2 linked regions of the Homo sapiens genome follow. Each later gene encodes a partner of the first gene's protein in a complex. Each region holds a gene or a part of one and is shown on either strand. Other genes may lie near its edges. The genes, in order: RAB11FIP2 and RAB25. A codon is read from its position in the direction of its gene.

Evidence for each region.
Region 2: the proteins of RAB11FIP2 (region 1) and RAB25 are in contact, whole or in part, in a crystal structure (PDB 3TSO), measured with the Homo sapiens proteins. Residues at the interface, in NP_055719.1 of Homo sapiens: Arg475, Glu478, Ile481, Asp482, Asn483, Leu485, Val486, Met489, Pro493, Ser494, Leu496, Arg497, Val498, Pro499; in NP_065120.2 of Homo sapiens: Arg34 (codon at 5,038), Ile45 (codon at 5,005), Gly46 (codon at 5,002), Val47 (codon at 4,999), Glu48 (codon at 4,996), Phe49 (codon at 4,993), Ser50 (codon at 4,990), Thr51 (codon at 4,987), Lys62 (codon at 4,954), Trp66 (codon at 4,942), Arg73 (codon at 4,921), Arg75 (codon at 4,915), Ala76 (codon at 4,912), Ile77 (codon at 4,909), Ala80 (codon at 4,900), Tyr81 (codon at 2,734).

Annotation. Positions count from the first base shown.
Region 1 is NC_000010.11:118,004,181-118,009,236, reverse strand, and holds the end of RAB11FIP2 (rab11 family-interacting protein 2), read left to right. Parts: intron 1-11; coding exon 12-239; 3' UTR 240-4,321; downstream 4,322-5,056. UniProt on the Homo sapiens protein: A Rab11 effector binding preferentially phosphatidylinositol 3,4,5-trisphosphate (PtdInsP3) and phosphatidic acid (PA) and acting in the regulation of the transport of vesicles from the endosomal recycling compartment (ERC) to the plasma membrane.
Region 2 is NC_000001.11:156,064,160-156,071,004, reverse strand, and holds the end of RAB25 (ras-related protein Rab-25 precursor), read right to left. Parts: intron 5,095-6,845; coding exon 4,899-5,094; intron 2,736-4,898; coding exon 2,542-2,735; intron 1,335-2,541; coding exon 1,254-1,334; intron 846-1,253; coding exon 718-845; 3' UTR 501-717; downstream 1-500. UniProt on the Homo sapiens protein: The small GTPases Rab are key regulators of intracellular membrane trafficking, from the formation of transport vesicles to their fusion with membranes.

The sequences.
Region 1 (5,056 bases):
TCCTGTTCTAGGACAGCAACCCCTTTGATGCCACTGCAGGGTATCGTAGTCTGACCTATGAAGAGGTTCTACAGGAGCTGGTGAAACACAAAGAACTCCTTAGGAGGAAAGACACCCACATCCGGGAACTCGAGGACTACATCGACAACCTCCTTGTAAGGGTAATGGAAGAAACGCCCAGTATTCTCAGAGTGCCGTATGAACCATCCAGGAAAGCTGGCAAATTCTCTAACAGTTAATAAAGCCAATTGTATTGTATTGATAATTGGACAAAGAGAGAGAAAGAAAGAAGGAAGGAAGGAAAAACTTGTTACTGAAAGAGACTACACTATCAGGTTTCATTACATATTCTCCTTTATTGTGAAGAGTAGTTTTACCTGTAAATATTAGCAGGGACTATCAAGAGTGACCTTTGAAGCAAGCTAAATCATTTAAATGTTTAAATTGAAAATGGGCCAGATTCTCAATGAATAAGTGGTTCCTTAGGACTCACTCAGGTGCTGGTACTGACCCACTAATCTGCCATAGGCCCAGAAATATCTTCAGAAGTACGTGAGTTGTTCCTCAGGAATAGATTTTTCATAAAGCAGAATTGATCCTGTGGCTGGTTTCTCAGAAATCAGTTTGTAGAAATATTTAGCTTCAGGAATACTGCTCGTTATAAACACTACTAAAAAAACAGTTTATATTTTATATACACATATGTACATGAATATATATATATTCATGTATCTTGTATATAAAATATAGGCATATACCTCATATATACATGTGTTTTTAGAACATTTAGAAACAATTGATTGCCTCTAAAGTTAGGCTACCAATTTCTTGATTTGAAAATGTGTGTGCTCTATTGATGCAAGACAAGTCATCCTTCCTACTGTCATGGTTTGTTATAGAGAAGCTGCTTCAAATCACTCTTGACTACATGGACCTTGGTTTCAAAGTGAGCTGCTATATATTATTCTAGCATCAAAGTTTTTCTCTTTCCCCAAAAGTGATGATCTCAAGTCCTTTTTTAAAGAATGACAAATTTTAGGAGACTTCATTAACTTCATAACAGCATGAATTTATTTGAATTAATTAACATTTGAGTTTGTTTAAGGTATAAGCAGAAGATAAGCTAATATAGCTTGTTTTGTTGAAATTCTGCATGCCTTTAAATCACTAGCAAAGCAAATATTATAAAGTTATATCTGAAAATAATTGTGGGAAGTATGTGATTGCCTGGTGTGTCTGATAACCCAAAGCAGCGGGCAGATTCCAGGAATGAAGAATTAGGCTTGGTTTCAGGTTACATAAATAATAGAGCAGATGGTTGCCTTTGGGTCTTGAACCAAAATAAGACTTACTAAAGGAAGAGTGAGTTTTTAGAAGAGAACTTTACGAGCGTGACATTATGCATTACTCCACATCCACCCTTTAAGAATTGATTTATTACAAAATTATGTTCTATTTTAAAGTCCACTCCCCCAAAATACTGATTTCTTCCATGGATTATTTTTATATGATTTGTACAAATTTTTTCTGAAATTTAAATTGACAAGCAATGTTATAAAAATATTGCTAATCTTCTGCTTATTTTTCAGCCTTTAAAGTCTGAAATACTATAAAACACTGAGAGTATCTATGTCTTTCTGAATTTAAAATGAAAATTCATGTCCATATGGAGACTTACATATTCCCCAATCTTTCCATGAATTGCATTTTTTTCTAATACTTATCTCTGTTAAGACTCCATTGAAAGTTAAACAAAAAGCCGATATAATAGTTTGGGTTTTTTTTTTTTGCTTATTTTAGTATTTTGAATCAGAGAATACTTGGCCAAGCTCGTATTTGTAAACTAAAACCCCTTGTTATTTGTATCTTCTGCATTTCAGTTTTACTGTAAGAACATACATTTTGAAATTATGAACATTTTTTTCATAAAAATTAAATGCTTTAAGAAATGGAGAAGGAAAAATAGCTTTTATCAATTTTTTTCTCCTCAAGATTCTGTAATAAACCTCAAAGTCTGGTGTAGAATGGTATTTTCCCGTTTGAGGTCTTGGTAGTTTTTTTTTTTTTTTTAAACATGGTGCCACTTTTAATTAACTAAATGTTACAAAATTCTCAGCATTTGTTTTTGTCTGGTAGTATTATTGAGTCTTTTCATACACTTCTTAAAATGTGAAAATCTATGTTTTCAGTATTATGACAGTATCTGCAGATACTATAATAATATGCTTTGGCCAAATTTGCTGTTTATAGAGTGAACCAAGATGTCAGTTTTGTATTGGGGATATGTTTTACATAAATAGAACTCATTTAAAAGTATGGTTCAAGTACTGCTCTTCTTTTTATGGGGAAATTGATTTTTAAGGAGCGATTCTTTTCCTATATAAAAGCTATTGAGGCTTAGCTTTATTCATACATGAGTGATTTGGTTATAACTCAATCAAAATTTTTATCTTTAAATCTGAGACAAGTATTATATTTAAAACTAGATCTATTAATACATTCATCACTGCCTGAAAATTTGCTGTTCTAATGTTTGTGAATTTTCACTCATTACCTAGAGTAAACTTATTGCATATTTTCATAATCAGTCAAAATAATAAAACTAAAAACAAAAAGTAAAAATTAGTTCCCAAGTAAATATATCAGTGTTTCCTGTGTTTGGGCAGAAGTGCAAAGTAGTTTTAATTTCTCACGTTGTAGAAAAAGAGGCCAAAAAGGTCACCTTAGTTTATTTTTCCAAAACATAACTTTAGGTATTCTAATGTATTTTGTTAGTTGCTTAGAAATGGAAATAAAATATATGTGCTTATTAAATAATGCACAGTACACTAGATTATAGAGTTTATTTTTGCTTTTATGCTTTAAAGAATGCATGCCCAAAACACTACTACCAACAAGAGGATTTTTTAAAATCACAGAATTGATATTTATCTCAAGACTATCTTAAGCTAATGTACTTCTGTTACATAATTAAACTATTTCTGCTATTATTTTTAAAGCAGTATTATTTTATAACCAATTCTAAAATTCAGCTTTAAAAATATTGAACATACCTTCCTACCACTTACGCTTCAAGTTTCATTTATTGAATACCAGGGTCATATCTTAGAATTGTATATAAAACAACATGTAACCCATTCATGAAAAACGTTTTTAAGTATTGCTTTTTGCTGCTATGTTCTGCATTGAGCCTAGTTTTGCCATTGTCCCCTGAATGTAGTATTATCTATAGATTATACATAACTACATCTATTGCTTTTGGTGGTAAATCAAGATTTAGTTGTAATTTTCCAGCTGTGAAAATGTTGCCTTGTATTTAAAAGGGTTTCATGAATGGAAACCTAAGTAAAACTAAGCTCATTAGTGACAGACTTGTTTTCTTCTTGTTATTCCTCCAGCAACTCCCTCACCACCACGCCTCCCTGCCTACCATCCCCGGAAGGGTGCTTATTCTTTAACAAAGAGAATCTAAAAAAAAAAACAAAAAACTGTTGTCTAATATATCTACAGTAAATGTTACACTAGAGCTTTTATTTTCCTCTGTAGCTTTTCAGAAGAAGCAATTTACCTTGGATTTGTAAATCAAGCTGAAACTTTTTTGATGTTCATGTACTCATATGTCTTGTAGGTGGTAGGTGTCACTTGTGTGTATGTGTAAGTGAAGTATGATGCATGCTCATTCACTTGGTCCCTTTGAAATAAGGGAAAGGATCACAGTGCTGCTGGGCCATGATGGTATGTAGAAGGGTCTGTCAGCACACATGGAAAGCCCCCATTTGCACAGATGTAGAACTTTAATAATCCAGATGCAATCATTGGAAGTATTTAATATGCAATTGGTAGCACCTTAGCTAATTAATCTGCATATGAAGCATTTTCTGATATATTTAATAAGAGGTATAGAAGCTCTTCAAGCATTAAAATAGAGTTGATGTTTCATTCCATTTGTTTTATCCATCAAAAAATGCACTCTCACAGTGGAGTTGAAGTCTAATACATGATACATGTGGGCCTGTTAGTCTTCGAAGCTTCCAGATGGTTTGTGTTTTGAGGTACAAAAAAATGCTGCAGATCTAGAAATGCATATATTTAGCGGGTATTTGAAAGATAGAAGCATTATTTATAACTGAAGAGTATAACACTTATCTTCTTAAGTAAATGCTCTCATAACTTGTATACATTTTTGCAGGTACAAATTCAAAAGTATGTAAGCATTGTATAATGTGACAATTGTATAATTTATGTAATCTGATGCATGAATCAGAATTTTTATATAATATATGATTATTGACTTATAGTTGATTAAAGTGTTTAAACTTAATTCAGTTGTCAACATTTATTACAGATACAGCGGTGTTACCATAATGGATTTATATATGAGTCCTCCTTGTTTTTTAATAAATACCTAGGATGCCTCTTATTTGGTGTATTGTAGCACATATTCTGTAAGACCTACAAACTTATTTTACTATGAAGATAGTTCTGAAAAGTCATTCAAAAGAGTAGTTTTTAAGTACAAGTGAACATTCTTCAACAAATGTGTGGATGCCCTCTACATATAAGACATCCCCTCATAGGGATGGAGCTTACGATTTAGTAGAAATGATATTTGAGTATTTATATATAGGCTAAGGTCTCTGCTGAGTACTTCCTATTTATGCTTTATTTTATTTCTCACAACAACCCTGTAAGGTAGGGAATGCACAAGCTTTCAGAGGAAATGTAAGAAAACCTTTTGTGGTACTGAAGAAAGTAGAATAGGGTTGGTACAGCCGGTAGCATTTTTCACCACTTCTTATCCTCCAGCATCTACCAGAAGTCATTAATCAGTCACCACTTCCAGTCCCCTCAACACAACAGTCTAAGTGCATGCCCCTCCATCCGAGGTATGGGTACATTTTTATGGCAGTGTATTAGGCAGTTGTATTCTAGATTATGGGACATGAACCATATGTAGTCTTAGACATAAATCATACATATTTGGCACAAGGGATTTCTCAGCAGACCAGAACGCCTTTCTGTTCTGGAATTGTAGTCCCTTCTGGAGGCCCGTTGA
Region 2 (6,845 bases), on another chromosome or scaffold:
GACTCCATCTCAAAAAAAAAAAAGACTGGATGGAGGACTTGGACCTTGCACCTCTCAGGCTTAAAAACCCCTTCCCCAGTACACACCTACAGGACTGGCCCCCACTCCCTCTTCTCCCCTTGTATCTCCCGCTGCCTCCTCCCCTTGCCCCTGGCATTGGAGTGACCTCAGTTGTTGGCACCAGGGCCCTCAGCACCAGATGGTGCCCGCCGATGGTTTCCTTTGTCTCGCCTTCCAGATATACCCCCTCCCCTCCATGCTCTCCTCCCTCCCCCACCTGCCCTGGGGGTTGGCAGAGGGAAGGGCAGGCACCTCCTATCCCCTTGGCACTGTCCCCAGACCACAGAACTCCAGAGGCAGCTGGCCCTGAGGGGCAGTAGGTATGGTGGGGAGGACAGAGGAAGGGGATTAGGGACTCAGAGGAGGGGCCAAAGTTGAAGGGGAGGCACAGACAAGGAGAAGAGGGAGGAACAGACGGGAGGCAGTGGAATGACCAGGCATTGATATAAAACAGCTTTATTTGAGGGTCCTAGTCTGTGAGGGGTGGACAGATAAAAGAGGTATTTGTGATAGGGCATGAAGACCTTAAGACCCTGAGGGTGCTGTGAACAGGGAACAGTCTGATATCTGGAACCAAAGGGCAAGGAAAGGTCCTGGGGCTGAAGTGGGGACAAGGGGCACCAAAAAGCCAGTGGGGGCAGGTGGTGCTGGCCAAGGTCAGAGGCTGATGCAACAGGCCCTCTTCTCCCCAGGGCCAGGCTCCTGTCCAGCCTGGGCACTGCCCAGAGTGATGGCATTGGTCCGGATGCTGTTCTGTCTCTGCTTGGACACCTTCGCAAAGATTTCTGGGAGGGCAGAGGGCAGTGATCAGGCCAGAAGATTTAGAGCCCATGCTCCCTTCTCCCCAACCCCCCCATACATACTGCATGCCCCTTCTGAGCATGGGGGGTGGCCACACTTGCAGGAGGTTTTGCAGGAAGGAAATGAAGTGTGGACATAGGGGTCCCTTCTACTTACTTGGGTGGAGAAGGAACCAAGAGTCAGCCCCATGGGGAGTGTGGCCTGTTCCCTCCCTGAGCTCCAGACTGAGTGGGAGGCACTGGGGAGGGACTGAGGGGGACAGGCAGTGGTGCCAGGACCCACAGAGGAGCTGAGAAATTAGCTGGGGTGAGGGCTGAGTGTCTGCATTCCTACTGCTGCCTGTAGAAGCCACGGGGATGGAATAGGGGTGCAGAATAAAGGTAGGCTCTAACCTTTCAGGACAGTCTCAAAGGCTAGCTCAACATTGGTAGAGTCCAGGGCTGAGGTCTCCAGGAAGAGCAGTCCATTGTTTTCTGCCAGGAAGGGAAACACACCATTAATTGTGGGAGTCAAAGGCAATAATAATAATAATATTAATGTTTGCTATATACATTTGCCATGTGCTAAACTCTTGGCATGTAGCAGATCATTTAATCCTTAAAACAACTTACAAGGTAGGTTCATTTAGAAAACTGAATCCAGAAACACAAAGAAAACAAATAAGGGGCTGGGTGCGGTGGCTCACGCCTGTAATCCCAGCACTTTGGGAGGCTGAGGTGGGTGGATCACGAGGTCAGGAGTTCAAGACCGGCTTGGCCAACATGGTGAAACCCCGTCTCCACTAAAAATACAAAAATTAGCCAGGCATGGTGGCGGGCACCTGTAATCCCAGCTACTCGGGAGGCTGAGGCAGAGAATTGCTTGAACCCAGGAGGTGGAGGTTGCAGTGAGCCAAGATCGTGCCACTGCACCCCAGCCTGGGTGACGGAGCGAGACTCCTCTCAAAAAAAGAAAAAGAAAAAGAATAAGGAAATTGCTCCATGTCCCACATTTAGTAACTGGCCAAGAGCAGATGGGAGACTGGGCCATGGGACTCCAGAACACCCTTAACCACCATATTGTGCTGCCTCTAAACTCAGAAAACTCCTGGGAAGCCTATCCTCTCCATAGGATCTTTGAGCATTACAGGGTGGGGCTGCCTTAAAATTAACTACGGGCCGGGCACAGTGGCTCACACCTATAATCCCAGAACTTTGGGAGGCCGAGGCAGCTGGATCACCTGAGGTCAGGGGTTCGAGACCAGCCTGGTCAACACGATGAAACCCCATCTCTACTAAAAATACAAAAATTAGCCAGGCATGGTGGCGCACACCTGTAGTCTTAGCTACTCAGGAGGCTGAGGCATGAGAATTGCTTGAACCCAAGAGGTGGAAGTTGCAGCGAGCCGAGATCGCACCACTGCACTCTAGCCTAGGCAACAGATTGAGACCCGGTCTCAAAAAAAAAAAAAAAAAAAAAATCAATAAAGACAATCTCAGGGCAAGTGGTGGGACATCATGGGAGACACAGGGTCCCAAAGGGGAAGTGCTGGGAAATCCTGAGGAAGAGGGGATGGGGTAGAGGACTGTATGGAGGAAGGCCAGGCTAGGGGCTCTATGGGTGGGGGCAGGGGCTGGGAGACTGCAAGGGAAAGGTGGGCTAAGCTTGGAGGAGTCAGCCTGGGTAGTGGCAGGCTCTCACCAGCGAACATTCGGGCCTCCTCAGTGGGCACTTCCCGGGCCTGGCTGAGGTCACTTTTGTTACCCACGAGCATGACGACGATCGTGGCTTCAGCATGGTCATAGAGCTCCTTCAGCCATCGCTCCACCACAGCATAGGTCTGGTGCTTGGTTAGGTCAAACACCAGGAGGGCCCCCACTGCACCACGATAGTACCTGGGTGGGAATGAGAAGGATGGACAGAGATACGATCAGAGGCATTGGACCCAGCATCAGAGCAGAGCCGTCAAGCTGGAACACCCGGGATCAGAGTACTAGAGATCAGGAAATACAGAAACTTGCGGCCAGGGGCCCAGAACCCAACAGAGCAGCCCAAGGCTCCTCTGCCTTCCAGGGACACTAGTCTTGGAGCCTGTAAAGTTTCACCTCCCTCGGCCAGGCGCGGTGGCTCACGCCTGTAATCCCAGCACTTTGGGAGGCCAAGGCGGGTGGATCACCTGAGGTGAGGAGTTCAAGACTAGCCTAACCAATATGGAGAAACCCCATCTCTACTAAAAATACAAAAATTAGCCGGGCATGATGGCGCATGCTTGTAATCCCAGCTACTCGGAAGGCTGAGGCAGGAGAATTGCTTGAACTCGGGAAGCGGAAGTTGCAGTGATCTGAGATCGCTCCATTGCACTCCAGCCTCGGCAACAAGAGTGAAAATTTGTCTCAACTAACTAACTAAATAAATAAAGTTTCACCTCCCTGCTCTAAAATCTCTATTGGCTTCCTCACAGCCAGCCCCTCTACTTTCTCAGGTTCTCGTCCTGATTTTAGCCCCTACTCTCCACCAGTGCACATCTGGGCTTTAGCCAACTCTGCCACCTTCAAGATCTTCCTCACATGGCTCCTTAACAGTGGCCTGTTCTCTCCCGTGGCCTTCTTTCTAGGATTAGCTGAATGCCTACCTCTTGCAGCAGTCCCTGGCCTGACCATTCAAGGCATCACTGAAAGCATCCAGTCTCCCTCTTGGAGTTGGATGGGATGTCTTCAGACTAGTGATGTCTAACTCCCAATTCATTGATGAGTCAACTGAGGCTCATAAGAGATCAGGTAACGAGGAGCATGTGTAACCAAAGCCCCTGACTCTTGCTTCCTGCCCCCTGGCAAGTGCTATCCACCCCATATACACACAAACAGACCCCATTTCACATGCTTAGGCCTCACACTGACTGGAAGACACTTTCTTTTTCTTTTTTTTTTTTTTTTGAGACAGAGTCTTGCTCTGTCGCTAGGCTGGAGTGCAGTGGCATGATCTTGGCTCACTGCAACCTCCACCTCCCAGGTTCGAGTGATTCTCCTGTCTCAGCCTCCCGAGTAGTTGGGATTACAGGCACCCACCACCATGCCTGGCTAATTTTTGTATTTTTAGTAGAGACGGGGGTTTCACTGTTGGCCAGGCTGGTCTCGAACTCCTGACCTTGTGATCTGCCCGCCTCGGCCTCCCAAAGTGCTGGGATTACAGGTGTGAGCTACCGCGCCCAGCTGACACTTTTTTCTTGAGACACAGTATCGCTTTGTCACCCAGGCTGGAGTGCAGTGGGGCGATTTCGGCTCACTGCAACTTCCGCCTCCCGGGTTCAAGCCATCCTCCCACCTTAGCTTCTCAAGTATCTGGGACTACAGGTACGCACCACCAAGCCCGGCCAATTTTTTATATTTTTGGTAGAGACAGGATTTTGCCATGTTGCCCAGGCTGGTCTCGAATTCATGAGCTCAAGCGATCCACCCACCTTGGCCTCCCAAAGTGCTGGGATTACAGGTGTGAGCCAACACACCCGGCCTAAGAGACACTTCGGATGTGGTGTCAGGAGGCCTAACCTCCTGTGTGTCCTCTGAGTCTTCATAAAATGCAGATGCTGGGTTCAGCTTTTGGTCCTCTGTGGTTAGATGAAAGTTGCCAAGTGCAGAGCATTGTGCGGAAGTGAGGGGGCGCTCTCGATCCGTGCAGCTCGCCCCCATCCTAGCTCCACCCTGATTTCACCTTGTTTGTATTTATACAGAAATTAACTAATTATAGCACTTTACTCCTGTGGTACTTTAAGGGTTACATAAAATGCCAAATGTAAAGTAACTTGTCCCTTCCTGGGCACATAGCAAAGGCTTAGTAAGTGGCAATGATTCCTGCTTTTAGTAGTACTAGTCAGTGTTACTATATCCTGGCTTGTGCTGTTTCTGTTTACAGTACCTTTTATCTTCTGTGATCTCCATCCCCACCCCCCAGAGCCCACTGCTGAGCCCCCTTGCCTCCTCCTCCCCCACTTCTCCTCCAGAAGTGTTCCTCGACTTCCCCAGAACTCCCACCACCCAGCAGCCCCCCAGGCCCGGGCTCACGCCGAGGTGATGGCTCGGTACCGCTCCAGGCCAGCTGTGTCCCAGATCTGAGCCTTGACAGCAGCGGTGCCCAACATCACAGTGCGGGTGGAGAACTCAACCCCGATGGTGGTGCGGCTGTCGTGGCTGAACTCATTGCGCGTGAATCGGGAGAGTAGATTGGTCTTCCCCACACCTGATTCGCCGATCAGCACCACTGAAGGAGTGGAGAGATAAGGGCTGAGCATGGGGTAGAGCAGCTCCAACCCCACCTGAGCTTGGAGGGTCTGCCCAGCAGAAAAAGGGAACTGAGCTCAGAAAAAAGATTAGGGAACGGAGTCTCCTGTGAGACTGGAGTCTGCAACTCTGCATAATGCATCTGTCCTGGTGGGCAGGAAAGCCAAGAGTTTAAAACAAACAAAGGGGCTTGACGGGTTATAGCCTGGTCTGTTGATACATGGTTGCAGAGTCAGCCTGCATCTCTGGTGAGGGAGTGACATCTGTGGGCTCTTTATGAGTGTCATGCGGAGACATTACTGTTGTGTGTGAATATGGACAGGGATGGTGGGAGGTCAGGGGGTGCACAGTTCTGGACTAGGACTTGGAGTATGAGAACATTGCACTTGTCTCTATATATATGAGCTGGGAGGACAAGTGGGAGGTTTGGTGTGTGTGTGTTTGCATAAGGAACAGAGGTGTGAATCAAAGTGTGGGTAAGGAGAAAGTTTGGCAGTTGACACATCTGTGGGTGAGAGGAAGGCATGTGTGCTCATGTGTGTGTAAGAAGTTAGGTTCCAGTTGTCCCTAAGGAGGGACAGTCCCGCATGGTTAAGAGCATGGGCCTGGGTGTTAGACCAGCTATGTGTCCTTCGGCAAGTTATTTAACCAATCTGAGCTGTTCTTTTCATATGAAAAATGGGGAAGACATTAGTATCTACCTTAAGGGTTATTGTAGGAAGTAAGTGAGACATTGCCCAGGATATAGTAAGTGTAAAAATCATGACTGGTATGATTGTTGTTAGCAGGCCAGAGTTTTTGCCTTTGGGTTTTCAGAGACAAGGATCCACCTGAGGGGCCATGAAGACCCTTTAGACTGGTGGGCAGCATCCAGGGCCCAGTCTTACCCATGTGGATGAGCTGGGGGCTGGGGTAGAGTGTAGGGGGCTGATGTGAGTAGAGCCCACAAATTGCACTGGCACTGAACTAAGCACACAGAATTAGAGGAGGCCACCCAGAGTGGTTCTGGAAAGGCAGGCTGGCACCCAAGGACTGGGAGCCACATATTGTGGGCTCTGGTCCCTGCTCAGCTTCTAACTAACTGTGTGAACTTGAACAAGTGACTCACCTTTTCTCAGTCTCAGTTGCCTTGCTTATACAACTTATAAAGGCCTCCTCCAACTTTAAAAGTTCCTTGGCTGGGTGTGGAGGTTCACGCCTGTAATCCCAGAACTTTGGGAGGCCAAGGCGGGAGTATCTCTTGAGCCCACAAGTTTGAGACCACCCTGGGTAACACGGTGAAACCCCATCTCTACAAAAAATGCAAAAATTAGCCAGGCATGGTAGCATGTGTCTGTAGTCTCAGCTACTTGGGAGGCTGAGGTGGGAGGATTGCTTGAGCCCTGGGGGTGCTGCAGTGAGCCGAGTTTGTGTTACTGCACTCCAGCCTGGGTGACAGAGTGAAACTCCGACTCAAAAAAAAAAAAAGAAAAAGAAAAAAAAATTAGCCAAGTGTGGTGGCACATGCATGTAGTCCCAGCTACTCAAGAGGCTGAGGTGGAAGGATTGTTTGAGCCCCGTAGGTTGTGGCTGCAATGAACTGTGATGGCATCACTGCACTCCAGCCTGGGTGACAGTGAAATTGTGTCTCAAAAAATAAAAATAAAAAATATATATTTAAACATTCCTTATTTGCATAGGACAGTATGGAAAAGCTGGAAATAATATGGATATGTGTGGGTAAGAGGATGT